7 linked regions of the Homo sapiens genome follow. The protein of the gene in region 4 purifies or fractionates together with the protein of the main gene of each other region. This does not show direct contact. Each region holds a gene or a part of one and is shown on either strand. Other genes may lie near its edges.

The links.
Region 1: the proteins of KIF11 (region 4) and ACTR10 purify together in Homo sapiens (affinity purification with mass spectrometry; one large-scale study listed by BioGRID and IntAct). This does not show direct contact.
Region 2: the proteins of KIF11 (region 4) and TNIP3 purify together in Homo sapiens (co-immunoprecipitation; one large-scale study listed by IntAct). This does not show direct contact.
Region 3: the proteins of KIF11 (region 4) and MTUS1 purify together in Homo sapiens (affinity purification with mass spectrometry; one large-scale study listed by BioGRID and IntAct). This does not show direct contact.
Region 5: the proteins of KIF11 (region 4) and BRPF1 purify together in Homo sapiens (affinity purification with mass spectrometry; one large-scale study listed by BioGRID and IntAct). This does not show direct contact.
Region 6: the proteins of KIF11 (region 4) and C2orf69 purify together in Homo sapiens (affinity purification with mass spectrometry; one large-scale study listed by BioGRID and IntAct). This does not show direct contact.
Region 7: the proteins of KIF11 (region 4) and ZKSCAN8 purify together in Homo sapiens (affinity purification with mass spectrometry; one large-scale study listed by BioGRID and IntAct). This does not show direct contact.

The regions. Positions count from the first base shown.
Region 1 is NC_000014.9:58,230,599-58,233,853, forward strand, and holds part of ACTR10 (actin-related protein 10), read left to right. Parts: intron 1-1,467; coding exon 1,468-1,669; intron 1,670-3,255. UniProt on the Homo sapiens protein: Part of the dynactin complex that activates the molecular motor dynein for ultra-processive transport along microtubules.
Region 2 is NC_000004.12:121,136,547-121,140,807, reverse strand, and holds part of TNIP3 (TNFAIP3-interacting protein 3), read left to right. Parts: intron 1-2,123; coding exon 2,124-2,184; intron 2,185-4,122; coding exon of another isoform or gene 4,123-4,229; exon of another isoform or gene 4,230-4,261. UniProt on the Homo sapiens protein: Binds to zinc finger protein TNFAIP3 and inhibits NF-kappa-B activation induced by tumor necrosis factor, Toll-like receptor 4 (TLR4), interleukin-1 and 12-O-tetradecanoylphorbol-13-acetate.
Region 3 is NC_000008.11:17,790,832-17,795,092, forward strand, and holds part of MTUS1 (microtubule-associated tumor suppressor 1), read right to left. Parts: intron 1-4,261. UniProt on the Homo sapiens protein: Cooperates with AGTR2 to inhibit ERK2 activation and cell proliferation. May be required for AGTR2 cell surface expression. Together with PTPN6, induces UBE2V2 expression upon angiotensin-II stimulation.
Region 4 is NC_000010.11:92,648,537-92,652,797, forward strand, and holds part of KIF11 (kinesin-like protein KIF11), read left to right. Parts: intron 1-1,298; coding exon 1,299-1,450; intron 1,451-1,864; coding exon 1,865-1,981; intron 1,982-4,261. UniProt on the Homo sapiens protein: Motor protein required for establishing a bipolar spindle and thus contributing to chromosome congression during mitosis. Required in non-mitotic cells for transport of secretory proteins from the Golgi complex to the cell surface.
Region 5 is NC_000003.12:9,737,826-9,742,086, forward strand, and holds part of BRPF1 (peregrin), read left to right. Parts: intron 1-1,173; coding exon 1,174-2,133; intron 2,134-2,953; coding exon 2,954-3,116; intron 3,117-3,482; coding exon 3,483-3,614; intron 3,615-4,199; coding exon 4,200-4,261. UniProt on the Homo sapiens protein: Scaffold subunit of various histone acetyltransferase (HAT) complexes, such as the MOZ/MORF and HBO1 complexes, which have a histone H3 acetyltransferase activity.
Region 6 is NC_000002.12:199,917,332-199,921,592, reverse strand, and holds part of C2orf69 (mitochondrial protein C2orf69 precursor), read right to left. Parts: intron 1-4,261. UniProt on the Homo sapiens protein: May play a role in the respiratory chain.
Region 7 is NC_000006.12:28,144,479-28,148,739, forward strand, and holds part of ZKSCAN8 (zinc finger protein with KRAB and SCAN domains 8), read left to right. Parts: intron 1-3,837; 5' UTR 3,838-3,929; coding exon 3,930-4,261. UniProt on the Homo sapiens protein: May be involved in transcriptional regulation.

The sequences.
Region 1 (3,255 bases), on a different chromosome or scaffold from region 4:
ACTAATCTGCTTATTAAATTTTATTAATTTTTACAGAATACGGTCCTTTTTTAACTTTTTAAACTTTCATTTTAAAATTTTATAGTTCATGAGTTTTACTCTGGCACTGAGAAATGGCATCTACAACATTCCAAACCCCAGGATAATGAGTGCCATGGACATGTGCTTTTTTTTTTTTTTGAGACAAAGTCTCGCTCTGTCACCCAGGCTGGAGTGCAGTGGCGCGATCTCAGCTCACTGCAGCCTCTGCCTCCCGGGTTCAAGTGATTCTCCTGCCTCAGCCTCCTGAGGAACTGGGATTACAGGCACCCACCACCTTGCCCAGCTAATTTTTGTATTATTTAGAGACAGGGTTTCGCCATGTTGGCCAGGCTGGTCTTGAACTCCTGACCTTGTGATCCGCCCGCCTCGGCCTCCCAAAGTGCTGGGATTACAAGCGTGAGCCACCGCACCTGGCCTTTTTTTTCTCTTTTTTTGACAGTGTTGCTCTTGTTGCCCAGGCTGGAGTGCAATGGCATGATCTCAGCTCAGCACAACCTCCGCCCCCGGGTTCAAGTGAGTATCCTGCCTCAGCTTCCCGAGTAGCTGGGATTACAGGCATGTGCCACCATGCCTGGCTAATTTTGTATTTTTGGTAGAGATGGGGTTTCTCCATGTTGGTCAGGCTGGTCTTGAACTCCCGACCTCAGGTAATCCACCTGTCTCGGCCTCCCAAAGGGCTGTACAGGCGTGAGCCACCAAACCCAGTGACATGTGCATTCTTTTAAGACCAGGGACCAGATTTTTATTTTGTACCTAGTGTGGCTTGTGGTTCCTTCCAATTCAGGGTTGTATAGTATTCAATTTTAAATTCCACAGGACATATGGTAATAATATGTCTCTTTCGTTTAATGACTATGTAATTATAGGACTTCGCATGAAATACCATTGCCTTGGAAGATATGTTTACCTCTAGGGCTCCATTCATTGAAGGACCTTATCATCGCTAACTCTTAAAGAGAACTGATGTAGAACCATAATTTTTCTAGGAGTGTTATCTTCCCACTTAACAACTGGCACTGTGAATACACCTTAGAAAAATTAAATTTCTACATATTTCACTTATCCCAAAAAAGAGAAGTTATTTCTTCTCATGCTCTTTGCCCTACTTAATCATTGCTACCCTGACAGTGAGAACACTCACATATGCCCTATGGAATGTAAAATTCTATGCTTTTAGACTTTAAACTATTTTAAAATCTTTAAAGTTTATGTATATATTTGGCAGTATGTTTATGGTGGTTATATTTGCTACATGAAAGAAACCTTGCTGTGGCCCTTTTTGCGATACAAACGATCACCTGTTTAATCTGTAGTATAATAATAATATGTATAATAATAGTATATTTATGTATATTTTCTTAAGTTCAATCAAGCATTATTTGTACAGTTCAGAATAAATCCTTCTTTTTTTCTTTTTAATAACAGTGTCCGATAGACACCAGGAAGCAACTAGCAGAGAATTTGGTAGTCATAGGTGGCACTTCTATGTTGCCAGGATTTCTCCACAGATTGCTTGCAGAAATAAGGTATTTGGTAGAAAAACCAAAATATAAAAAAGCACTTGGCACTAAGACATTTCGAATTCATACTCCACCTGCAAAAGCTAATTGTGTGGCCTGGTTGGGAGGTAAGAATTTCACTTTTAAAATATAATGATTATATAGTATTTGGTCTCTGAATGACACTATTAATGGATATATTAGAATAAATAATTCAGGGTTCAGAATTGCCCACTTTATAAATAGAACTAACACTGACTTTTTCTTTTTTTTTTTTTTTTTTTTTTTTTTTGAGACGGAGTCTCACTCTGTCGCCAGGCTGGAGTGCAGTGGTGGTGCGATCTCGGCTCACTGCAGCTTCCGCCTCCCGGGTTCAAGCAATTCTGCTGCCTCAGCCTCCTGACTAGCTGGGACTGCAGGCGTGCACCACCACGCCCAGCTAATTTTTGTATTTTTAGTAGAGACGGGGTTTCACCATGTTGGCCAGGATGGTCTCGATCTCTTGACCTCGTGATCCACCCACCTTGGCCTCCCAAAGTGCTGGGATTACAGGCATGAACCACCATGCCCAGCTGACTTTTTCTTAAATTGTATTAATTTTCAGAATTTTATACCTATTTCTCTTGGCATTTGCACCGTGATATTAAGTAAACGTTCTCATTTAGTTAAAGTCATCCCTCAAAATAGTGAAAGCTATGAATTTATTCCAGTGATGCTACCATTTCTTTCTTTCTTTTTTTTTTTTTTTGAGACGTTTCATCTTTGTTGCCCGTCCAGCTGGAGTGCTATAGCGTGATCCCAGCTCACCGCAACCTCTGCCTCCCAGGCTCAAGCAATCCTCCTGCCTCAGCCTCCCTAGTAGCTGGGATTATAGGCGCCCGCCACCACGCCTGGCTAAGTTTTTTGTATCTTTAGTAGAGACAGGGTTTCTCCATGTTGGTCAGGCTGGTCTCAAACTCCTGACCTCAGGTGATCCGCCCGCCTCTGCCTCCCAAAGTGCTGGGATTACAGGTGTGAGCCACCGCCCCTGGCTTACCATTTCTTAAAATGTTCATTTTAATGTCTTCTAAAGCTAGTGAGCCACATATGAAAATTGGCCTCTTTAATTTATGAGTATATTTGTGACTGAGTTCATTAAATGTTTTAAGTAGTGATGGTTTCACTGAAATAAGCAATTAACCTAATAAGTACAGTTGACCCTTGAACAACATGGGTTTGAATTATGTGGGTCCACTCATATGCTGTTTTTTAGGAAATATGCTAGAAAAATTTTGGAGATTTGCAACAATTTGAAAAAACATAGACAAACCATGTAGCCTAGAAATATCAAAAAAATTAAGAAAAAGATACATCATGAATGTATAAAAATATATATACAGATACTGGGCTGTTTATGTGTTAATCGACTATTCATGTTATTGGTAAGACTTCTCAGTCAACAGTAGACTATTGGTAGTTAAGTTTTCGGGGAGTCAAAAATTATACATGGATTTTCAACTGCTTGGGGGTCCACACCCCTAATCCCTGCATTGTTCAAGGATCAGCTGTAACTACTTTGAAGGGAAAAACAATCATGAATATGTACATTTATACAGGTTCTGATATGTGTTTTATGATGCAGTTAGAGCTAGAAGGTATCAGGATTGTGCATTTAGAGAAAGAGTAGTATGACATTTTAAAATGAATGTTACATTATTTCTTGTAAAATAGAATT
Region 2 (4,261 bases), on a different chromosome or scaffold from region 4:
TGCTAGTTCTGTCTGCTCTCCCTCCCCCTTTTCCTTTTTTTTCTTTACCTGTTTGCTTACTTTTCAGTCTTTACCAATAACATTAAATTTTTTTTTCAAGAATGTAGAAGTCAACTCAGATTGTGAGAAACATAAAGAGAAATTTACTGTAGGAGTGAATTAACCTATAGGAGTTGGCTTCTACAGGTTGGGGGATTGGAGAAATATTCTTATGAAAGGTTAACTATAAAACCAATCAGTCATTCACATTTACCTAGGAGTACAAATTATTGTTTCAGTCAAATATTTCTTTATGGAAAGAAGGAAGGAATTCACCTACTATAGCTCATCAAACAGTCCATGTCAATTAAAAAAGGCAAGGCAGTCCAGGTCACATAAAATTGTCACCAAATAAAGGCCTATATTTGAAAAAGGACTCCAAGCCATGTAGAATGGCCTACATTTTCTTTCTTTTTTTCTTTTTTCTTTTTTTTTGAGAAGGCATCTCGCTCTGTCATCCAGGCTGTAGTGCAGTGGTGCGATCTTGGCTCACTGCAACCTGTACCTCCTGGGTTCAGGCAATTCTCCTGCCTCAGCCTCCCGACTGGCTGGGACTACAGGCACACACCACCACACGTGGCTAATTTTTGTAATTTTAGCGGAGATGGGGTTTCACCATATTGCCCAGGCTGGTCTCAAACTCCTGACCTCATGATCCGCCCACCTTGGCCTCCCAAAGTGCTGAGATTACAGGCATGAGCCACTGCGCCTGGCCAGAATGGCCTACATTTTCAAGCAGTAGTCAGATGAAAAAAATCTCAGCATAACAGTAGAGTTTACAACCAAATCCTCAAAGTTAATTTAAAAATAATATTTCATGTTTCTTGTCTATATCGAAGGCTGAATTAAGTCACATGCTATAGTGTTGGTAACATTACAGGATATTTACCTTCTCTTGGCAACTCTCCTGGAATATAAAACTGAGGCTCACGTCACTTATCCTATGTGTTATTTGAGACATCTAAAAATAAACGAGAAGATAAAAAACAGAGGTGATCTCATTTCCTCTTCTAGCTTTTTCATAAGCCAGAGGAGCCAAGGGCCTAGGTGTCTAGAGTAGGGGTACAGTGGGGTCAAACTGCACTAAAAGCAGCATTTCTCAGTGTCTTATTGAGTAATTGAACTTTCTGGGCTACTTTCAGTGGTCTGGCAGCCTTGTAAATGCTCTCTGTTGGCTCATGTTAGAAAAATTTTCCTCAAGTTATTTTTAGGAGATAATTGAATTACAGAACAACAAAAAAATCTATATTCTCTGTGTCTTGTGGAGAAGTAGGAGGCAGGGGTGAGCATTCAGAGCAGAAAGACAGACCTGCTTTGTGGGCAGGTAAAGCTGAGATTGCTCCATTCCTAAGCGTTAAATACAGAGGTGCTGGCCTTGGAGATATCTTGATGATTCAGGCCTATGGGTTTACTATTTATTCAATGCAATTTGTTCGACATTCAATATCTAGCTGTTCTTAACTGGTGTAAACCTAGGAGAAAATCCCAAGAGAAAAATCTTGTCTCTGTAGACTAAACTATATGAGCAATTTAGAGGATAGGTTCTGCTGGATCGGTTCTTCACAACAGCAAAAAGGGAAAGATTTGCCCTGCTTCACCATCCTGAACTTCTGTCAATGCCAAATCCCCATTTAATAGCTTAAATTTCTTCCTTAAACCATTAGAAAACTTGTATTAAACTTTTTTTCCTGGCCTTCTCATTGCCTCTAGTGTGAGGGTCTCAAAAAGAGTATTTGTTGATGCTAAGTTGCTTTGTTTTATTGATGGGCTGTAGTAAGTTTTACAAGTGTTTATACTTCTGCAGATATTCAAAACACATCTGTTTCAAAAAAAGAAAGAAAATATGTCACAACCTCAAAGTGGTAGAAATTCTGGCCAAACACAGAGTGGATTTAAGAGGGGGTAGGGAGAGATGATGGCAGTGATGGGGGGTAAGCAGGATGAGTGAGGTTGGCAATAGGTTTGGATAGAAATTACTTTTGTGTTGCCTGCTTAATAAAAGCCACATAGCCTAATTGTATTTTTGACATGCCACTATATTTGAAGTCCATATTGCTATAATAATGTTGTATTGTTCCACACAGCCAGACTATCAGTGGTATGCTCTTGACCAGCTTCCGCCAGATGTACAACACAAGGCAAATGGTGAGACCACAGCTGTATTGAGCATTCTTTCATGTTTACATCTTAATGGGATCTTTTGGGGATGTTTACTCAACATACATTCATTCGTACTTGGGGAGGACTTACTATAAAGTTGTGTTACATACATAACTTTAATTTGATGCACCTGGGGTTAAATTGAACTCCTTAAGACAAAGAAAATGTGCGAATGCAGAAATGCATGAACCTCAATTCTGGCTTCTGTTCCTTTTTCAGTCTCAGAGTCAGAATTCCATCTGGGGTTAGAAATGAAAACTGTAAGCAGAGCTGTATTATAACAACAACAAAGCTCTGCAATTGTACTACAAAGCACAGATGCACACCCACTATTCCAGGTTGAGTTTGCTAGACAGATGTTTTAAATGTCACTGGCAGACAGACAGAGGAAACCAAAGGCTCGGAACTGTGTTCCCTTATGACTAAATGTCAGACTCCAAGGCAGGGCTCTTAGTTTAGGCCAGGGTTGCCCACAACGCCCACCTCAAAGTATGCTGGGGAAAACTAAAAGTCACTTATGAAGTACTCACAACTAAGAGTACTTTTTTAAATCTTATTTTTTATTGATTTAACATTTTCTGTTTTCTTTCTAGAATCTGCTATACTTTCTACTGCTTGTTTCTATGGTCTTGTGAGGCCACCCAGAAGCGGGCTGTATAAACTGAGCTATAATCAAAATCCCACTTCTATTCTCATCAAGTATACATAATCAAAAGTTAGAAATGTCTGCTACATGTTTAAAGTCTCATATGACACACACCTGGGACTCTAACTTGTTAATTTCCAAAGATTTGAATCTATCTAAAAATGCTGAAGATGAGCTATGTAGTCTAATTTCAGGCCATTCTTGAAATTTGATCTCGTTTGAAGTCAGAGCTGAGATCACAGAAATCTAGTTTTTAATACAAGGAGTCTGTTATGGAGTGTAAATAGGGAGTCAGGGACACCACATGTAGTTTTGCAGGTTGTGAACTTTACAAGTCTGAGGGGCTCATCATGGTACTCTATGTGAATGGAGCCTGCTGAAGTACAATACGCAATCTGGACAGCTGTACACAGCAGCAATGGGAGTGACAAAGGCCATAGATTACAACAGCATCATAGAAAAGAAATATGAAATGTGAGAATTCCATAATAAAATATCCAGGTATTTATCAAAACACTATAGGACTCTCTTTTTTCTTTGCTTTCTACTACAAATATAGCCAGTGGTTTTAATGAAGTTCTTGAGTTCCAACAATAATGGAGTTGTTTTATTAGAAAGGCATACCATTAACCGGAATGTGTGTTGCATAATATATGCAATTTTAAAATCTATTATGGTATAATAACAGAATTGCTACCCAATTATAATTTTCCATTTTATATTGCTCTGGAATGACTATTAAAGATATTTTCTTTCTGAATTGGAGTTTAATAACTGGAAAATAAAATTACTTAGTACAGAATTTAGTAATACCATAAGGTCATTTATATATCATTATTAGATTCTTGCTGGACCAATATTACACAAGCTAATGATTACATAAAATAGAAATGAATTGTGATGACATTCAGAAACTAAATAGAATATGCAATAATGAAATGTTGTAGTCAGTGTATGAGACTTACTGATTTTTGTCTAGCTAGGAAAAATGTAGTGAGCTTTGTGATGTATAAACATACCATGTAACAGTGTCTACAGATGTAAAACTACAACAAAAAAATCTCCATGATGTACCAACCTAAGCTTTTTTTTTTTTTTTTTTTTTCGGAGACAGTCTTACTCTGTCACCCAGGCTGGAGTAGTGCACTGGTGTGATCATAGCTCACTGTACCCTTAAACTCCTGGGCTCAAGAAATCATCCCACCTCAGCCTCATGAATAGGGCTACAGGCATGAACCACCATGCCCAGCTAATTTTTATTTTTATTTTTTGTTCAGATGGTGTCTTGCTCCACCTCCAGTCTGTTGCCAGGCTGGTCTCGAACTCCTGGCCTCAAGTGATCCTCCTGCCTCTGGCTCCCAAAGTGCTGAAATTTCAGGTGTGAGCCACTACACCCGGCCTGTTTTTAAAGCATTA
Region 3 (4,261 bases), on a different chromosome or scaffold from region 4:
CAAAAATTAGCCGGGCATGATGGCAGGCACCTGTAATCCCAGCTACCCAGGAAGCTGAGGCAGGAGAATCGCTTGAATCCGGGAGGTGGAGGTTGCAGTCAGCCGGATCGTACCACTGCACTCCAACCTGGGTGACAAAGCAAACTATCGGTGGGGGCGGGGAGAAGTTTTATCCCATTTCAGCACCAATGTATAGAAAATCCTGGCAACAGAAACTTATTACTTCCACTCGCATTAAAACTAGTCAAATAACAGCATCATACTGGGTGTGGGAAATGGACCGGTACAAGTCCAGTCCCAGTTCCATAACTTACTCGCCATAAGACAAAACATTTATCCAAATAGTTCTGGTCCCCAGTCTCCTTCAGTATAAAAGAAAGCACTCATGACCTGCTCTGCCCAACCGCAGGGCTGATGTGATCAGTTCTTAATATCATATTTACAATGTGCTTGCCACAAACATAGGGAATTAATATTTCACTATGCTTAAAAGATGAAAATACAAAATTGCTTTTATATTTAAATACTGTATATTAATAGTAACATTTTACAATTGAAACTCTAAAATACAAATATTCTGGACTATGTTACAGGTGAAAAATCAGAACAGGGAACCTTAGTACTGTAATATCCACAAGTCCAAGATTAGTTCAAAGTGATGACTCAATTGTCTTTCGAATGTGCTGACTGATAGCAAAGAGGCAACATAATTTACAGACTTTACCAAAGATAAAAGTATCTACATTGATTTTTTGAAAACACAGTTCAAATGGAGTATCAGCAGCTCACTAGACTTAAACTTTCAAGAAAAACAAGAGGTGACAAAGCTGGAGTCTGAGAATAAACAATCTCCAATGTTTGCTACAAATCAATTCCTCCTAAGGAAGAGGGAAAGTTATCAGCCTCCTGAGCCTAGAATTTAACTCCCAACCGACAGCACCAGCAGATCCAAGCAACACCTCCAAGGCTAAGCAGCAGAAATTAAATGAAACACCTATCTATGAATCAGAAGATTTAATTTAAAACTAGAGACTAAGGAAGGTTATTAGCACCCATTGATCATTTTCTATATACCTGGCACCTGTGTCAGAATAACCCCAGGAGACAAGGTACTACCCCCACCTTCCAGCGTCCTGATGAGCCAACTGGGGAGCAAAGGTAATGAAATTTCACTCAAGGTCACATGGCTAATAGGAAAATCTCAGACATGAACCCAATTTTGCCTGTTAAGTCTGTGCACTCTCTATGACATTACTGCACCAAATGTCCTGGATACCCATTACATTTTTCCAATTCTATAATAAAGTATGTCCCCAGGGTTTCATAATGGATGTCATGGTGGGCAAAATCTAGCTAAATGGTGAAATACCTCTATTTATTATTTGAAATTCAATAAAAACAGGAGGAAGGAGAGAAGAAAAGCAGTCCCTAGCACTGAAGGATGGAGGGCTAATCATTCAAGATCAAAACAACTCACACCATATAAGGAGAAAATAGTTTTCATTTGATTATATATCTACAAGGTTATACATTTTTAAATGTTCAGCCTAATAAGCTGTAACCAGAACTTTCCAACAAAATAGTCTTATCTGCAATATAAAATGGTTTAGGTTTTCTCATAGAAACAGAAATGTAGGATTTTTCTTACCTCCCTTTTCATTAACTGACCCTACTCTTTTAAATTCAAATTAAGAGTAAGTAAATCCCTTTGCAGAGGTGCCATCAAAAACACTATAAAGCAACATCAGAAGGCTGGGCATGGTGGCTTACGCCTGTAATCCCAGCACTTTGGAAGGACAAGGTGGACAGATCGCCTGAGGCCAGGAGATTGCCACCAGCCTGGCCAACATGGGGAAATTCTGTCTCTACCAAAAATACAAAAATTATCCAGGCGCGGTGGCGCATACCTGTAGTGCCAGGTACTCAGAAGGCTATGGCATGAGAATCACTTAAACCTGGGAGGCGGAGGTTGCAGTGAGCCGAGATCACACCACTGTCCTCCAGCCTGTGACACAGCAAGACTCTGTCTCAAAAAAAATCTGAAAGCAAAACAATTTTTTAACCCTTAAACAGAAAATACTTCTTCACAGCATTAAATCAAGTTCAATAACCAGCAAGTCTAGAGAACTATTGAAAAGTTTTACATAAATGCAAAACTACTCTGAAACACAAATCTTATTAGATGTAATGAGAAAAAAGAATCCTAGACTGCAAAGTTATCTGAATTCCTAAGTTGTACATACATTTTTCTCTAAACAGAAAACAGCCCAAGTCCCTAGTCAAAAGAAATTGTCAACTTGCGATTGTCTGCACGAATAGGGAATGTCATAAATCATGAGTGGAATCAATTACGTACATGTATTTGCACATGGGTATGCCAGATGTTCTCAAACTGACTCTTCATAATAAAACAGTAACTCAGAAGCATCAGGAAACTTGGCACCTTCCAGCTCTGATGCTCTGCTCCCAAAGCCATGGCCGTTCAGTCGGACACAAGACTGAGGGTAAACTACCTTCCCTCTGCTTGCTGAGTATGAAACAATGGATGAGGGGGTGAGGGCAAGAGGAGAGGGCAAGGAGCAAGGCACAGAAAAGCAATAAGGAAATTAATACCTGTGGTTTAAAAGACCTTCCAGTAGCTGTGACTATCTGACAAAAGAATTTCAAATTCCCATGCCATCAGAGCTCTAGATGATTTATTCCAGACCACATCTGGGAGAAATAATTATAAAAGTAAAAATGTACCCAGCATCCGAACATTTAGACCCTATCCTTAAGGAGCTTACAAGATGTAGCAAAAATATACTGGAAAAGGTAACTAAAGATTCTCATTGAGAGAAATTAAGAGACGCCAAAGAGTACAGTGCTAAGTATTTTCCTTCTTAATCCTTTTGGTGAGAAGGAAAAGGGTAAGCATGATTAATGACAAGGATGCTTTATATAACCAAGAATGTCAATACAACCTACGTGACCAAACTTTGGTCAAGTCAGCAGGTGGAATTTTTAATGCAAAGCCCAACGTTAACAACCTGGGAGAATATTTCGAACAACACAAACACTTACTAACATCTCCAAAACTGCACTTTTCACAATGATTGGGGTTTCTCTGACTCCTCCAAGAAAAGAGGTCAAATTCTTTTTTTTCTCTTCTACCTCAGTGTTTGGCCCATAGAAAGTGCTCAAAAATGGCTGAGGCTGAGGAAAACCAAACACAGGCCGGGCACAGTGGCTCACGTCTGTAGTCCCAGCACTTTGGGAGGCCAAGGCCGGTGGATCACCTGAGGTCAGGAGTTCGAGACCAGCCTGATCAACATGGTGAAACCCTGTCTCTACTAAAAATAAAAAATGAAGACGGGCGTGGTGGTGCATGCCTGTAATCCCAGCTACTCAGAAAGCTGAGGCAGGAGAATCGCTTGAACCCAGGAGGCGGACACTGCAGTGAGCCAAGATCACGCCACTGCACTCCAGCCTGGGCAACAAGAGCAAAACTCTGTCTCAAAAAAAAAGATAAAAGAAAAAAAAATCAAACATAATATTCTAACAGCAAGGATTTTTACTCATGCTTTTTATTTATCATTTTACATGAAATATAAGCCTAACTATACACTACGTATAAATGACTTGGTTCTGTATGTGGGGCCTAGATTGGGGATCTAATACAACACGTGAATTTTTCTTGGTAGCTAGGTCTTGGCATGGCTCAGCCCTTTTAAATCCATTTCTCATTCTCCAATATCCTTCTACCCTATCCTGACCCACCAGCAAGGAGGACTTCTGCAATCCTCACTTCAATTAAAGCCTGTTGGCTTAGGGTCACAGTAATAAGCAAATATGGTTCAATTCTGTAATTTGATTAACAACGAAATGATTAACAGTATAGCAGTTTACAGTATAATAAAAAATAAGATTTTAACAGTGCAAGGTGACTTAATCAGAATTCTGGGAAATATGACTCAACCACCTTGACACAGAGGTCAGGGGAAGGGGGTAGGTCTATGTTTCAATGTCATCTCAGAAACTGCTCATATCTATGCTGGCTTCTATTTTCATTCCGTAAAGCTAGCCAAGGGAGCTATGTTTTACGAGGACATGCAGTTTCAACTTCGTATCATTCATAGCTAACAATCATGCAAAAATCTACAAAATAAACATTAAGGAAAATAAATTTCTTATTTGTCACTGAACACTGCTGAATACCTCCTATGAACTGCTTATCTGAAATAAGGTGAAGAAATATTGATTCTTTTCATCCAGATTGGTA
Region 4 (4,261 bases):
GAAATTTAACATCTCACTGTAATCAACTCAAAATGGGAAAACTGGAACCTTAAAATAGTTTTAATCAAGTGTCATGATACAGGTGGTATCACAATTCAGTATAATTTCACATACTTTCAGGGAGTTGACTTTGTTAATAGGGGATTTTTTAAAACAAATACAAACCTAGCACTGTTTGTAAAAGGACATTTTAATACCACAAATATGGGAGAGATGTAACTGACTAAATCTAGTTTAATGCAAAGTTTACCACATTGTGCATTTTGTTCTGTGTCCCTCTCATTTTGTCATAGACTATTGCCATTTAGGAATCCCTGTTTTAAGAGATCAGGGATCACCATGGACCATTAGCATTTAGGAATCAACATTTTGAGAGATCACATATGGCAAAGATCATTATAGGCTGTAATGATTCAGGGAGGTCTTCATGGAAGAGATGTAACAAGCTGTTTTACACAGCATGAATAATTGGGTTCTTCATTGGATTATGGTAATGGTTGCACACCCTGTAAACTCACTAAAATCCACTGAATTGTACACATAAAATGAGTGTTTTATGGTATGTAAATTATATCACAAAACTCTTTTTTTTTTTTAATTTAAAAAGCAATTGTTAAAAGGGGATGGTGCTACATAGAATGTTGGTTTATTTATTCCCCAAGAGACCTGTAGGATTTACTGTCTACTTTTCAATGAAGTTAGGAATGTAAATGTTGAGTGAAAAGGCAAGTACTTTTGTAAATCATGAGAGCATGAGCTTATTACAGAGAAATATAACTGGGGGCCTGATGCGGTGGCTCACACCTATAATCCCAGCACTTCGGGAGGCAAGGCAGGAGGATCGTTTGAGCCCAGGGGTTCAAGACCAGCCTGGGCAACATAGTATATGTATATAACTAGTTAATATTTAACCACCACACCACATTTATAGTGAAATGATTACTCCTATCAAAGTAATCATGTTGGGAAATCTACTCATTCCAATAATGCTGCCATTTTTTTCAGAACACTATAACTCCTTTTAGAGCTTATAACACATCTTTTATATATCCTCAGAGATGGTAAACTTCATGTTTTAGAGAGTAGGATGAATCTTGAAAACAGTAAAGTCTGTCATCAAATTAGAAAGTATTGTTAGTTGCAAACAATGTCTGACAGGTAGCAAGACTGATCCTCATATATGGCAATTATATTTTTATATTTTTAGAAGACAAGATTAATTAGGAAGTTTTAGGTTTTTTTAAAAATATTTACATCTCATACTTTAATTTTTACCTCTTATCTAATGTCCGTTAAAGGTACGACACCACAGAGGAAAAGTTATTTATACCCATCAACACTGGTAAGAACTGAACCACGTGAACATCTCCTTGATCAGCTGAAAAGGAAACAGCCTGAGCTGTTAATGATGCTAAACTGTTCAGAAAACAACAAAGAAGAGACAATTCCGGTAAATTTAAAGGATCATATTTTATAATAGAACTCTTTTATGAACTCTTGATGTGGCTGACTTCATGTGAAGAATTTTACTGTTTACCCCTCAATCTTACCCCGCCTCTCATTAATGATAGGCCTAGCCCTTAGGCTTGTTTCTTTTAATCTTACTAGTTTTTAAATTATGCTAGTAGATAATAATAGCCAATACTTAATATTGTGCTTAGTAACATTGTTATATAGGAACCTCTACTCTCTATAAAAATATATTAGGAATTATTTTCATTAATTTGTAGACTTTCTAATAATTTTGTTGAGGTTTAACTTTTATATTATACCATGGGCATTGTGTTATACTCAAAGCTGCTGTTACTCTTGTGATGACTTTTAAGCCCTTGGACTTAGTCACTCATCCAGTTTCTTCTTTTAGGATGTGGATGTAGAAGAGGCAGTTCTGGGGCAGTATACTGAAGAACCTCTAAGTCAAGAGCCATCTGTAGATGCTGGTGTGGATTGTTCATCAATTGGCGGGGTTCCATTTTTCCAGGTATGTCATATCAGATAACCCTTCCACATCTGATGTAAGTCATTCATTTACTATTCATTATAAAGGTATTGTTCGTGGTGAGCAGAACAACAAAAACCTTTCAATTATTCCTTAGGATGGCTTGTTAACGCTTATGATTTGAATTATTTACAAAAATCTGATATTGATAAGGGGTTTTCTGTAGAATAAATGAAGGCAGAATTTGACTTAATCTACATCCTTAGCTGATAATCTTTAGCTATTGTATTTATTCCTTTTCTGCTTGCTATATACTCAGACACTGAGAGCAGTCATTTCTCTTCCTTCTACCTTTGACATGTAAGTCTTGGAACCTATCTCTGCCCATAATCAGACTTTGAAGGCAAAGTGATTGAAAAGATTGAGAGACTGGAGGCCTCTTAGGTTATATTAGTGATTTCTCCTGCCTGAGGCTCTTCTCTTGTAAACTGTTGCCCCATGTTTCCTGAGCACCTTGCCTGCTCTAATCCAGTGTAATTAAATCCTGTGACCTCTCCTACCCACTCTTCTTTTTTTTTTGAGACTGAGTCACCCAGGCTGAAGTGGAGTGGCACGATCTTGGCTCACTTAACCTCCGCCTCCTGAGTTCAAGTGATTCTCCTGACTCAGCCTCCCGGGTAGCTAGGATTACAGGCATGCACCACCACACCTGGCTAATTTTTTTGTATTTTTAGTAGAGACAGGGTTTCACTATGTGGGCCAGGCTGGTCTCAAACTCCTGACCTCAAGTTATCTACCCTCCTCGGCCTCCCAAAGTGCTGGGATTACAGGCGTGAGCCACTGTGCCCAGCCCTCTACCCACTTTTTTTTTTCTTTTGAGACGGAGCTTCGCTCTTGTTTCCCAGGCTGGAGTGCAATGGCACGATCTTGGCTCACCGCAACTTCCACCTCCTGGGTTCAAGTGATTCTCCTGCCTCAGCCTCCCGAGTAGCCAGGATTACAGGCATGTGCCACCATGCCTGGCTAATTTTGTTTTTTTTTTTTTTTTTTTTTTTTTTTTTTTTTTTTTTTTTAGTAGAGGGGGTTTCTCTGTGTTGGTCAGGCTGGTCTCGAACTCCCAACTTCAGGTGATCTGCCTGCCTCGGCCTCCCGTAGTGCTGGGATTACAGGTGTGAGCCACCGGCCCGGCCCCTCCTACCCACTTTTTAACACTGTTGAGAACATAGTTGGTTTATGATTCATCTCAGCATTGATGACTGAGTACACAATCAATGTCACCAGTCCCTTAATGTTCTCTATGGGTAAGTAGGAGGATTCCAATGAAATACAACTTCCAAGTGAGGCTCTATAAAGTGCTGGTATCTTTTCCTCTAATTTGAGGGTACAAGCCTAGACAGAGTGTGTGAAGGAAAAATTTCCTTACGTAGGACATTGGTATCTACATTTACAGTTGAAGTTCTACTTCTGAGATGCATATGCTTGTACCTTTTTTTTTTTTTTTTTTTTTTAAATATATATAGAGAGAGGGTCTTGCTATGTTGGCCAGACTGGTCTTGAACTCTTGGCCTCAAGCAGCCCTCCTACCTCAGCCTCCCAAAATGCTAGGATTACAGGCATGAACCACTGCGCCTGGCTGCTTGTACCTTTTTTGTGTGTATGTCTTGTTTTGTTTTTTTGTTTTTGAGACGGAGTTTTGCTCTTGTTGCCCAGGCCAGAGTGCAATTGCCTGATCTTGGCTCACCACAATCTCCGCCTCCCGGGTTCTAGCGATTCTCTTGCCTCATCCTCCCGAGTAGCTGGGATTACAGGCATGCACCACCACACCTGGCTAATATTGTATTTTTAGTAGAGAAGGGGTTTCTCCATGTTGGTCAGGCTAATCTTGAACTCCCGACCTCAGGTGATCCGCCCGCCTCGGCCTCCCAAAGTGCTGGGATTACAAGCGTGAGCCACCGCGCTCGGCCTGTAACTGTTTTTTAATAGATCTACAGCTCCTTCCCTTAAGGTCTAAAGATTCTCCATCCCTGCTTTCAACAGTTAACAAAGTTCCAACTCAGATTCTCATAAATTCCTCCCTGTCTTCCTCTGGGCAATTTTATTCCCAAATTCTTGCCACCTTTTGCTTTATTCCTTACTATTAGAGAACTATAAATATGTTTCTTTCAGTTTTCATCCTTTTCTTCTATCTTATAAAGTTAGGAAAGGGGGAAGGATAAGAGAACCTGGTGACTACTTAATCCCTGGTCAGAAATCGTTTTATTATTATTATCTGTGGCATTTTGAATTAGGCTTAGTGATTCAGCTATGGCAAGGAAGTCCCTA
Region 5 (4,261 bases), on a different chromosome or scaffold from region 4:
GGCAAGGTAGTATATAAATAAATGTAAAGGCCAAGAGTTTGTGGCCTATTCATTTTTATAATTCCATATAACCCTGACAGTTTCTTTGTGAGTGGGTAGTATTATCCTCGTTCTGTCATCAGTAAAACTGAGGTTTAGTACAGCAGTGATGTCCTAAAAGTCATAAAATGGCAGAGGCAGGATTTAAATCTGGTTTGCTTAGAAGCCAAAGCCCCATCCCTTCCTTTGTACCCTGTAGTTTACAGTGCCAGAGTCTAGGCCACCTATAGCATGCCAGGCAAGGAGCACCTTCTCTGTGTGACAAGCACCGAGAGCAGCCCTCAATTCCAGGCCTGTTGGCATAGTAAGTGATACAGGTTGGACATTAAGAGCACTGGGCTGGAGGTTGAATGCCTCTGCCTCTGCCACTCCCTTGTTATGTGACCTATCTATGTTTTGATTAACTTCTCAAAGCTTAAGTTTTCTTATCTGCAAAATGAGGACAACAAGAACACTAACTCTATGGCTGTGGTAAGAATAAATGTAATAGTTAAGCACAATGCCTGGCTCATAGGAAATCCTCAGTAAACCTTAGCTATTATAATTGTTATCTCCCAAGGCTATCCAGTGAACAAACATAGCACCTAGAGTTTGACGGAGCCTTGAGCTGATGCTGACACTAGCTGAGAGAAGATCCATGGCAGCTCTAGTCGAGGCCCTGCCCACCAGTGCTAAAACAACTTATATGTAATTTGTCAATGACATCCAATGACCTTCCTTCTTCCCCGATTCTTCGTACCATCATCTGGACCACTCTAAGGGGTACTAGCTGCCCCACCTTCCTCCTTTTAGAGGAGGCTGGCTGAGCCTCTGCAACCCCAAGAAGATGGTGTCACATATAGCAGCTAGGACATGAGCTTTGCAGTGGCAGACCTGGGTTCACATCCCAGCTCCACCACTTTCTCACAAGTGAGCTGGGGCCAGGTGATTAACCTTCCAAGCCTTAGGTTTCCTTTTCAGCAAAATAGAAACGATGATAGTACCTATAATATCTGGAGTTAAGGTGAGGATGAAATGAGACAACACATCTGAAGGGCATAGGCACAGAGTAAGTGCTCAATGGCAAATGACCCATCATCTTTAAGGGAGGGAAATCTCAACCATGTGATGCTGAGTTCCCTGTTTGTACCGTAGGTACATCGAGAAGTCTGCAGAGGAGCTGGACGAGGAAGTAGAGTATGACATGGACGAGGAGGACTACATCTGGCTGGATATCATGAATGAGCGTCGGAAGACAGAGGGTGTAAGTCCCATCCCGCAGGAGATCTTTGAGTACCTAATGGACCGACTGGAGAAGGAGTCGTACTTTGAGAGTCATAATAAAGGCGACCCTAATGCGCTAGTGGACGAGGATGCTGTTTGCTGTATCTGCAATGATGGTGAGTGCCAGAACAGCAATGTCATCCTCTTCTGTGACATGTGCAACCTGGCCGTGCACCAGGAGTGCTACGGTGTCCCCTATATCCCTGAGGGCCAGTGGCTGTGCCGCCGTTGCCTGCAGTCACCCTCTCGTGCTGTGGATTGTGCCCTGTGCCCCAACAAGGGCGGTGCCTTCAAGCAGACAGATGACGGGCGCTGGGCCCATGTGGTGTGTGCCTTGTGGATCCCTGAGGTCTGCTTCGCCAACACGGTCTTCCTAGAGCCTATTGACAGCATTGAGCACATCCCACCAGCTCGCTGGAAGCTCACCTGCTACATTTGCAAACAACGGGGCTCAGGGGCCTGCATCCAGTGCCACAAGGCCAACTGTTACACAGCTTTCCATGTGACATGCGCCCAGCAGGCTGGCCTTTACATGAAGATGGAGCCTGTGCGGGAGACAGGCGCCAACGGCACCTCTTTCAGTGTCCGCAAGACAGCCTACTGCGACATCCACACGCCTCCAGGTTCAGCACGCCGACTGCCTGCCCTGTCCCACAGCGAGGGTGAGGAGGATGAAGATGAGGAGGAGGATGAGGGTAAGGGCTGGAGCTCAGAGAAAGTCAAGAAGGCCAAGGCCAAGTCCCGGATCAAAATGAAGAAGGCACGGAAGATCCTGGCAGAGAAGCGGGCAGCAGCACCTGTGGTGTCAGTGCCCTGCATCCCACCACACAGGTATGTGGGGAGCCGGTGGACAGGCAGATGAGGGAGAAAGGAGCCTCCAGGAGAGGAGCTGGCAGCCTCCTGAGTGGAATGGCAGGGCTGGGCTATCTTCCCAGGAGCTGCATAGAAGTTAAAAAGAACATATTTTCAAAACAGATAGTTGTCTTTAGCAGGTCACCTGACTTTCACATTAAGAGCCAGAAATGTCAGCTTTTATCTGGCATAGCTAACAGGCGTTTTGGAACTGCCCTTCATTTTGATGGTGTGGTTTGTTAAGTTGGGATGGAAGAGGATGGAACTGCCACTGGCAGCAATGGAAAAAATGGTCTGAATATGAAGAAACAAATAGAATGAAAAGCGGGGAAGGGGAAGCTCAAGAAGTTGTGAAGTGGTTACTGCTGCTCATTTGGGCTGTGATGGCCAGGGATTTTTTTAGTTCTCTTGTGCCGTTTATTTGATTTACTATATATTTCTGCTGTACAGTTGTACTTCATTTTAAAACCTTCAAAGGCTCAGTCTCAGTGGGGCTCCCAGGGTCAAATAGTACTCTGGGCTGCAGTGACTAGAGCAGTCTTAGGGGCAGAAGTCCCTGATTGCTGGTGTACAGGGTTAGGGATCTGGTTTAGTGCTGGGAGCTTGGTTTCCTGTCTGCCACGGTACCACTGATGGCACCACTCTTTCTTCCTTGCCTTAAGTCCAGAGTCCCAGGCCTTTTGGACAAGAGATCCTCTCCCTTCATCCCCATTCAGGAACTTTCACTGGCCAGAGACCCTTGCTCTGCTTAAGAGAATCAGGGCCCAACAAGTTTTACTCTTTGTTTCCTGCCTCCCAGGCTTAGTAAAATCACCAACCGCCTGACCATCCAAAGGAAGAGCCAGTTCATGCAGAGGCTGCACAGCTACTGGACACTGAAGCGGCAGTCACGGAATGGGGTCCCATTGCTACGTCGCCTGCAGACACACCTGCAATCTCAGAGGAACTGTGACCAAGTTGGGGTACTGTGTCCAGTTCCCTGTGGGCTCTGGGAACTAGCGCCAGGGGGACGAAAACCAAAATTTGCAACTGTAGTTTCCAGTGTCAGAGGGCTTAGACTCTTTCCTCCTTTAAGCTAGCCCTCAAACCAGGATCAGCATGGAATGTTCAATGAAAAGATGTTGTTCCTATGTGTTTATGTATTCATTCAACAAACACATACCAAGCATTTATTCTGCCAGGCCTTGGGGACACACAGATTGAGGCACTACCAATAAATTACTGTGCTCCCTCTTTTGGCTTGACCTGAGTTTCCTGGGCTCTCTTCTCCCTGTTGACCTTTCCTCTGGCTTTCTAATCATCCTCTGATCTTCGTTTTGCCTCTACAGAGAGATTCTGAGGATAAGAACTGGGCCCTTAAAGAACAGCTCAAGTCCTGGCAGCGGCTCCGGCATGACTTGGAGCGAGCTCGGCTGCTCGTGGAATTGATCCGCAAGCGGGAAAAACTCAAAAGGGAGACGGTGAGTGCTCCTGGGCCAGCCCTATTTTATAAAAGAAAAAACAAAAAATTAGCCAGGCATGGTGGCAGGCGCCTGTAGTCCCAGCTACTCGGGAGGCTGAGGCAGGAGAATGGCGTGAACCTGGGAGGAGGGGTTTGCAGTGAGCCAAGATCGTGCCACTGTACTCCAGCCTGGGCGACAGAGCGAGACTCCGTCTCAAAAAAAAAAAAAAAAAAAAGACCCAGGAGAAGGAATAGCGTGTGTACCCCAGCCAGATAGCAGCAGGGCTGACGCTGGAGTCAGGTCTCCTGGTGCTCGGTGTGCTTTTAGTTCTGCTGGAAGCAGAATGTCACAGGAGCGTATGAACAGAATCCTCAGTTATGTGACATAGGTAGCTGGTGCTGGTAGTTCAAGAAAGGGGGAAGCCAGAATTGTTGGTGCAAGTTTCCCTGGGTGGAGCCTCATAGAAGGTAGACCTGTATGAGTACACCCAGCTGTGAGGGTGGGAAAGAAGGCGGGTTCCCAGGCCAGCTGGGACCATATCCTCAGACCTCTTTGCCACTGAACTGGCCGAGGCCTGGCTGATCAGGCCTTTTTCTATGTTAGATCAAGGTTCAGCAGATTGCCATGGAGATGCAGCTGACTCCTTTCCTCATCCTCCTTCGCAA
Region 6 (4,261 bases), on a different chromosome or scaffold from region 4:
TGCTTATTTTCCCACATCTTTACCCATTCTTAATGCTGACGGCTATTAGCATCAATTTTTTAAAATCCTCGCTACTATGATAAAATGATATCTTACTTTTGATTTAATTTGCATGTTTTGATTCCCAATCAGGTTAAACATTGTTAACTGGCAGTTTTCATTTTTCTTTTGTTAATTTTCTGTTCATGTCCTGTGATAATTTTCCCACTATGATGTTCAATTCCTTCCTAAGTTACATTTCACTAATATTAGTAGTTTGCCATATATGTTAAAAATACTAATTCCCAGGCCGGGCACAGTAGCTCACGTCTGTAATCCCAGCACTTTGGGAGGCCGAGCCAGGCGGATCACGAGGTCAGGAGATGGGAGACCATCCTGGCCAACATGGTGAAACCCCGTCTCTACTAAAAATACAAAAATTAGCCAGGCATGGTGGCGCGTGCCTGTAGTCACAGCTACTCAGGAGGCTGAGGCAGAAGAATCGCTTGAACCCAGGAGGTGGAGGTTGCAGTGAGCCAAGACCGCGCCACTGCACTCCATCCTGGGTAACAGAGCAAGACTCCACCTCAAAAAAAAAAAAAAAAAAAAAAACTAATTCCTAGAAGGCCAACAAGTGACTTTTTTTTTTTTTTTTTTTTTGAGAGTCTCAGGCTCTGTCCCCCAGGCTGGAGTGCAGTGGCAAGATCTCGGCTCACTGCAACCTCTGCCTCCCGGGTTCATGCCATTCTCCTGCCTCAGCCTCCCGAGTAGCTGGGACTACAGGCGCGCGCCACCATGCCCGGCTAATTTTTTGTATTTTTAGTAGAGATGGGGTTTCACCATGTTAGCCAGGATGGTCTCCATCTCCTGACCTCGTGATCCACCCGCTTCGGTCTCCCAAAGTGCTGGGATTACAGGCATGAGCCACCGCGCCTGGCCCATCATTTGACTTTTTATGGATTCTGCTATTGCTTTCTGCACAATTATTTTATAATTAATGATATATCCAATTATCATGAAATCATAGGCACTTACATCTCGAAGGGCTCATCTAAATCCTTTTTATAGTTAAGGAACCTGAGGTCCTGGAAACTACAGTTATTTATATATTTATTTAGTTAATGAGCCAAAATGAACCTAGATTTTATGACTCTCAGTTTAGTCCTACCACATAGAAGGTGCTCTAAATCTAGAAACATGATATTTTCCTTGATTAGCCCCAGGTTCCACGATTAGAGGAAGGAGAATGCTTATTCTAAGGAACTGTATGCAGTAAAATGTAAAGATGGAATCATTACTGTGTGTCAAAGCCCAGATCTGGGAACAATGGAAACACACTTTCATATTCTAAAAAGAGGCACCAGACACCCCTCTAGGAGTTACTAAGAGGTAGCCCAAACTGGTTCTGCAACTGAGGCTGTTACCCACGGCCAATCTACAGAAAAGGTTAAAGACTAAGGAAAGAGAGAGATTTCTTTCAAGAGAGTTTTCATCCTAGTTGGGAATGCAATGCACTACTATCCCCATAAGAGGTAAGGGGTGAAAGGCCATGCTTCTCATCCCCAGTGAGGCAGGCCACAAGAGAATCTCTTGAGAGTTTAAAGAATGCCTACTACTCCAGTTAGATGCTTGCTGACCTGCAAAAACTCAGAGACCCACTCCAAACTGCTATTGAAGTAACGAACAATGGATTTTTAGGAAATCTTGACATGTGTCTCTAAGAGTTGGTAGACAAATGATAGATTCAAACTAAGTGTTCTGCCCTTAGAGCAGAGTGAACTTCTGCTACGGTTTGAATGTGTCCGCCAAAGTTCATGTTTTGTAAACTTAATCCCTAAAGCAACTATGATTAGAGGTGGGATCTTTAAGAGGTGATTAGGTCACAAGGGCTCTGCCCTCATGAATGGATTAATGGTTCTTGATAAAAGGATGAATTTGGCCTCTCCTTCCCCTCCTCCACTCCCTAGTGCTCTCTTGCCCTTCTGCCTTCCACCATGAGATGACAGGGCAAGAAGGCCCTCACCAGATGTAGGCCCCTCCTAACCTCCAGAATCATGAGCTAAATAAATTTCTGTTTATTATAAACATAAAGTGCACATCTGAAGTAAGCAGGCTAGAATGACCAGAACAGGGTCCAGCCTAAGAGAGCTGCCTGATAAAGCACAGGAAGCTCCAAGGTACATGACCAGGAGACACCACTTAGGGCATGATCGTCTATAGATCCTAACCTTTAGGAAAGCAAAACTTTTAAAGAGTTAAAACTGGAAATAACTCAAATGTTTATGAACTGCTGAATGGATAAACAAAGTATATATCCATACATAGAATACTACTCTGTAAATAAAAGGAACAGACTACTGGCTGGGCACAGTGGCTCACGCCTGCAATCCCAGCTCTTTGGGAGGCCAAGGCAGGAGGATCACTTAACCCCCGGGGTTTGAGACCAGCCTAGGCAACCTAATGAGACCCTCGTTTCTACGAAAAATTTTAAAAATTAGCCAGGTGTGATTGTGCATGCCTGTAAGTCCCAGCTACTTGAGAGGCTAAGGTAGGAGGATCGCTTGAGCCTGGGAGGTTGAGGCTGCAGTGAGCCATGTTCACGCCACTGCATTTCAGCCTAGTTGACAGAGCTAGACCCTGTCTCAACAAAAAAGAACAATGAAAAAAACTACAGATACAGGTAACAATATGGATGAATTTCAAAAGTATTAAATAGTGAAACAGTCACACACAAAAGACTACATACTATATGACAAATTAACAAAATTCTAGAAAAAGCAAAAACCATAGTGAAAGAAAGCAGGTTAGTGGTTGGGAAAAGAAAACTGACCATAAAGGAGCACGGAGGTACTTTTTAGGATAATGGAGATACTCTACAACATGATTTTGGTGGTTACATAATTCCAACACTTGTCAAAATTCACAAAATTGTACTCTTACTTAAAATACAAGGGCCGGGCACAGTGGCTCACACCTGTAATCCCAGCACTTTGGGAGGCCCACGCAGGCAGATCACTTGAGGTCAGGAGTTCGAGAGCAGCCTGACCAACATGGTGAAACCCCGTCTCTACTAAAAATACAAAAATTACCCAGGCGTGGTGGCACACACCTGTAATCCCAGCTACTCAGGAGGCTGAGGCACAAGAATTGCTTGAACCCGGGAGACGGAGGTTGCAGTGAGCCGAGATTGTACCACTGCACTTCAGCCTGGGCAACAGAGCAAGACTCCGTCTGAAAATATAATGATAATAAATAAATTAAAATACAGTAAAATAAAGGGGATACATATAATTATATACCCAAGGCTTTAAAAAGATAACTCAAAATGGAAAGCACCTACTTTAAAAAAATCTTGATCACCCTTCAAAATCATTATTGCTAGATGAGAAAAACATAGGTACCTAAAGAAATACAAAATACTATGGATATATGGTTTGGTTGTGTCCCCACCAAAATCTCATCTTGAATTGTAGTTCCCATAATCCCCACATGGGAGGGACCCGATGGAAGGTAATTGAATCATGGGGCGGTTACCCTCCTGCTGTTCTGGTGACAGTGAGTTTTTACAAGATGGTTTTATAAGGGGCTCATCCCCCTCTTTGCTCTCATTCTCTTTCCTACCACCATATGAAGAAGGGCATGTTTGCTTCCCCTTCCACCATGACTGTAAGTTTTCAGAGGCACCCCCAGCCCTGTGAAACTGTGAGCCAATTAAACCTCTTTGCTTTATAAATTACCTAGTCTTGGGTATGTCTCTATTAGCAGCATGAGAATGGACTAATACAGTAAATTGGTACTGCAGAGAGTGGGGTGCTGCTATAAGGATACCCAAAAATGTGGAAGCAACTTTGGAGCTGGGTAACAGGCAGAGGTTGGAACAGTCTGTAGGGCTCAGAAGAAAACAGGAAAATGTGGGAAAGTTTGGAACTTCCTAGAGACTTGTTGAATGGCTTTGACCAAAATGCTGATAGTGATTTGGATAATGAAGTCTAGGCTGCACTGGTCTCAGACAGAGATAATAAACTTTTTAGAACTGAAGCAAAGGTCACTCTTGTTATGGTTTAGCAAAGACACTGGCAACATTCTGCCCCTGCCCCAGAGATCTGTGGAACTTTGACCTTGAGAGGGATGGTTTGAAATTGGAACTTATATGTAAATGGGAAGTAGCACATAAAAGTTTGGAAAATTTGCAACCTGACGATGCTATAAAAAAAGAAAAACCCATTTTCTGAGGAGAATTTCAAGCAGCCTGCAGAAACTTGCATAAGTAACGAGGAGCCAA
Region 7 (4,261 bases), on a different chromosome or scaffold from region 4:
ATAGGTCTCTGGTTTTATCTTGATGTTAGCATCTCATGACAACTGGTTTAGGGTATGCTACCTTTACTTACACTCTTCTTCATTCTCTACAGTATCTTTGAAATACAAAGATAATGGTCACCTCTGTCAACAAACATTTGCAATAAGGCCATGGCCACATTCTCACAATGTGATAAGTCCTATATTTGGACCATGTTAAAAATGCTTTGGTAGGAATGACAAATGGCAGGGGGATGACAGAGAAGAACTCATGAAAAAGGTAATAGATAAATTAGAGTTAAGAGTTGAATGATTTTAGGCCGGGCACAGTGGCTTACGCCTGTAATCCCAGCACTTTGGGAGGCCGAGGCGGGCAGATCACGAGGTCAGGAGATCGAGACCATCCTGGCTAACACAGTGAAACCCCATCTCTACTAAAAATACAAAAAATTAGCCGGGTGTGGTGGAGGGCGCCTGTAGTCCCAGCTACTCGGGAGGCCGAGGCAGGAGAATGGCGTGAACCCGGGAGGCGGAGGTTGCAGTGAGCCGAGTTCGCGCCACTGCACTCCAGCCTGGGCGACAGAGCAAGACTCCATCTCAAACAAAAAAAAAAAGAGTTGAATGGTTTTAGCTGGACCAAGATTTATCAACCTTGGCATTGACACTTTGGGCCAAATAATTCTTTGTGGTGGGGGCTGTGTTGAGCATTGTAGGATCCCTGGCCTCTATGTACAAGATAATAGTAGCACCCCTTACCCCCAAGTTGTGACAACAAAAATATTTACAGACATTATGAAAGGTCCCTGGGATGGGGGTAAGGACAATATTGCCATCAGTTTTGAACCACTGAGCTAGAGTAAAGAACTCTGTAGTAGAATGGAAGTATGAGAAAGCCACAGCCCAGAAAGGCTTTATGTAAGTGAGTTTAAAGTAGATATAGCCAGCCAGGTTTACATTCATAAAGGGCCTTGCATACCATGCTAAAAAATTTGGTCCCTATTGAAATATTTTCAGGAGGTGAGTCATGTTAGTCATATTACATATTTTTAAAAAATCTCTGGCAGTACAGGGCTACTGTAAAAAAAAAAAGTATCATAAACCTGGTAGTTTAATAGAATAGACACTTACTGTCTCATAATTAGGAAGGCTAGATGTCCAAAATCAGAGTGTCGCCAGACCCATGCTCTTCTAGCTTCTTGTTTTTACTGACAAACTTTGGCATTCCTTGGCTTGCAGCTGCACAACTCCATCTCTGCTTCTGTAGTCACTTAGCTCTCATTCATCTGTGTGTGTGTGTCTTCACATGACCTTCTCCTTTCTCAGAGTCTGTCTCTGTGTCTTTTTTCCTTTTAAAAGTGTGCCAGTCATATTGGTTTAATGGCCTACCCATTCCAGTATAACTTCATCTTAACTTGATTACATCTGCAAAGCCCCATTTCCAAATAAGGTCACATCCACAGGTACTAGAGGTTAGAATGTCCGCATATCTTTTTGAGGGACACATTTCAACACACAGTAGGCAATATTGTGGAACATGAATGGGAAAAAAGCATAACCAAAGTTACCATTGCAGTTCTAGGCAAGAGATGATGTCTATACCAAGGATGGAAACCATAGACATATATTTCACAAAGAAATAGGATCATGAAATTGAACTTTTTTCGGACATCAGGTCTTGTTTCTAAATCTCACTCTTACAAGAAATATAAACATGTTCTGTGTTTGCAATTGTAAATATGGCTAATGTTCTTCGATTCTATCAATAAGATAAAAGATATGGACCTTTGCCCATGGGGAAAATACAATTAAGTTTTGAAGTCAGAATTCCTTTGGAACTAATAAATATACAGTTATGGGAAAAGTAACATTAAAGCAATACACATTTAAGTAACAGAGGTATAGAATGAGAGGAAAATAATTTCCAATTGGAGTCACCAGGAAAGGATTTTTAAAGGCAACAGTATTTTATCTTGTCCTTTAAGAAAGTAGTGTCGGTACTGATGAAAGAAGTCAAAGAAGACTTCAACGGAGAGACACATTGTGTTCACGGAATGGAAAACTCACTGTTGTTGAGATATCAGTTGTCCCTAAAATGAGCTATGGATTCAATACAAATCCAATTCAATAATTTTTTGTAGAAATTAATACACTGATTCTAAAATGTGTATCAAAAGACAACAGAACTAGGAAAGTGAAAATAATTTTGAAAACGAACAACAAAGTTGCAAGACCCACCTACTTGATTTCAAGATTTTAAAAGTTACACAATCAAGACTATTCTGTATTGGTGAAAGAATAGATGTATAGGTCAATAAACAGAACAGAGATTCCAGAAATAGACCCTTACATATACATACATATAGTGAACTGATATTTGACAAATATACAAAGACAGTTAAGTAGATAAAGGAGAATCCTTAAAATGAACCTCCATCCATACCTCAAATTCTATATAAAAATTAACTCAAAATGGATCATAGGCCTAAATGTAAAACCTAAAACTATAAAACTTTTAGTAAAAAACAGGAGAAAATATTTGTAACCTTGGATTAAGCAAAGATTTCTTAGATATGACATCAAAAGCACAGTCAATTAAAAAAATGAACTTTTTTTCTTCAAAAGGCCCTATGAAAAGGATGAAAAAGAGGGAATACTTGCAAATTACATATCTCATAAAGGACTTGTGTCCAGAGGATGTAAGAAACTCAAAACTTAATTTTAAAATAACTAAATTTAAAAATGGGCAGAAGTTTTGAACAAATACTTCACTAAAGAAGATATATAGATGTTAAATAAGCACATAAAAAGATGCTCAACATTATTAGTCAGTAGAGAAATGCATACTAAAGCCATATGAGATATTAAAACCATAATGAGTTGCCACTACACATACACCTATTAGAATATCTAAAATTAAAAACAAAAACAATATCAAGTGCTAGTCAGATTGGAAAACAGTTTTGCAGTTTCTTATAAAGTTATACATATATGTATTTTATGACACAGCAATTTTACCTCTGAATATTTGCCCAAATAAAATGAAAACTATATTCACACCAAAACTCATGCAGATGTTCATAGTGGCTTTATTCATAGTGATTAAAAAACAAAAACAACTCAGATATTGTTCAACTGGGAAATGGATAAACATTTAAACATTCCCACTCCAGAATCTCACATAAATAAAATCATATAGTATGTAGCCTTTTGAGTGTGGGAGTAGACTTTTGGGTTGTAGTTGTCAATAGGGCATCCAGGTTCCTTGGAGTGCTCCATAGAGAGTTTCTGAGTTGGAGGTCACGTCCATAGTAGAGGAAGTTAACCTTGAGATAGGAGGAAAGATGAGGGGCACAGGTAGGATAAGGAATGTTAGGTGGAGAAGAGCAAAGTGTTAGGAAAGTTTTTGACAATACCTTGAATTAGATTATGTAGAAATTAGTCTCATCTGTTAAGAGTAAGGGAAAGGTTGAGAGCTGAAGCGTGTAGAACCAGATTAGTACAGCTGGTGTATCAAAGACTAAAAGGGGTTAAATGAGCAGCCCTGAAGGCCAGCTGAGATTAAACACAAAATTTCAACTAGACCCAGTCTACATGGTTTCCTGACTTTGCTTAGCCATGTTCCACATCCCCAAACAGGGTGATGAAAGCAGAAGGAAGGGGTTTTTCTATGGATGGGTTTGGCATGGCTGGCATGACAGAAAGTTAAGGAAGTAAGAAGTTATTTCTGGAACAGTGGGGAGGATCATTTAATTGGCCGAGCCATGAAGTCCGTGTCATACTAAGGAACTTGTTAAGATACCATAGTTAGTTACAATGACTTTTGACTTGCCTTAACACTATCATATTTTCTTCATGAAGAAGTACCCTTAGAAAGAGGCCCTCAGAAGAGTCTTCTCTTAAGAAGATAAAGAAGGTAGTGGAAACGAACTTCCTGAGCTTTTCAGGCTCTAATGGCTGAAGAATCAAGAAAGCCTTCAGCCCCATCCCCACCAGACCAGACTCCTGAAGAGGATCTTGTAATCGTCAAGGTAGAGGAGGATCATGGTTGGGACCAGGAATCTAGTCTGCATGAAAGTAACCCTCTTGGCCAAGAAGTGTTCCGCCTGCGCTTCAGGCAGTTACGCTACCAGGAGACACTAGGACCCCGAGAAGCTCTGATCCAACTACGGGCCCTTTGCCATCAGTGGCTGAGGCCAGATTTGAACACCAAGGAACAGATCCTGGAGCTGCTGGTGCTGGAGCAGTTCTTGACCATCCTACCTGAGGAGCTCCAGACACTGGT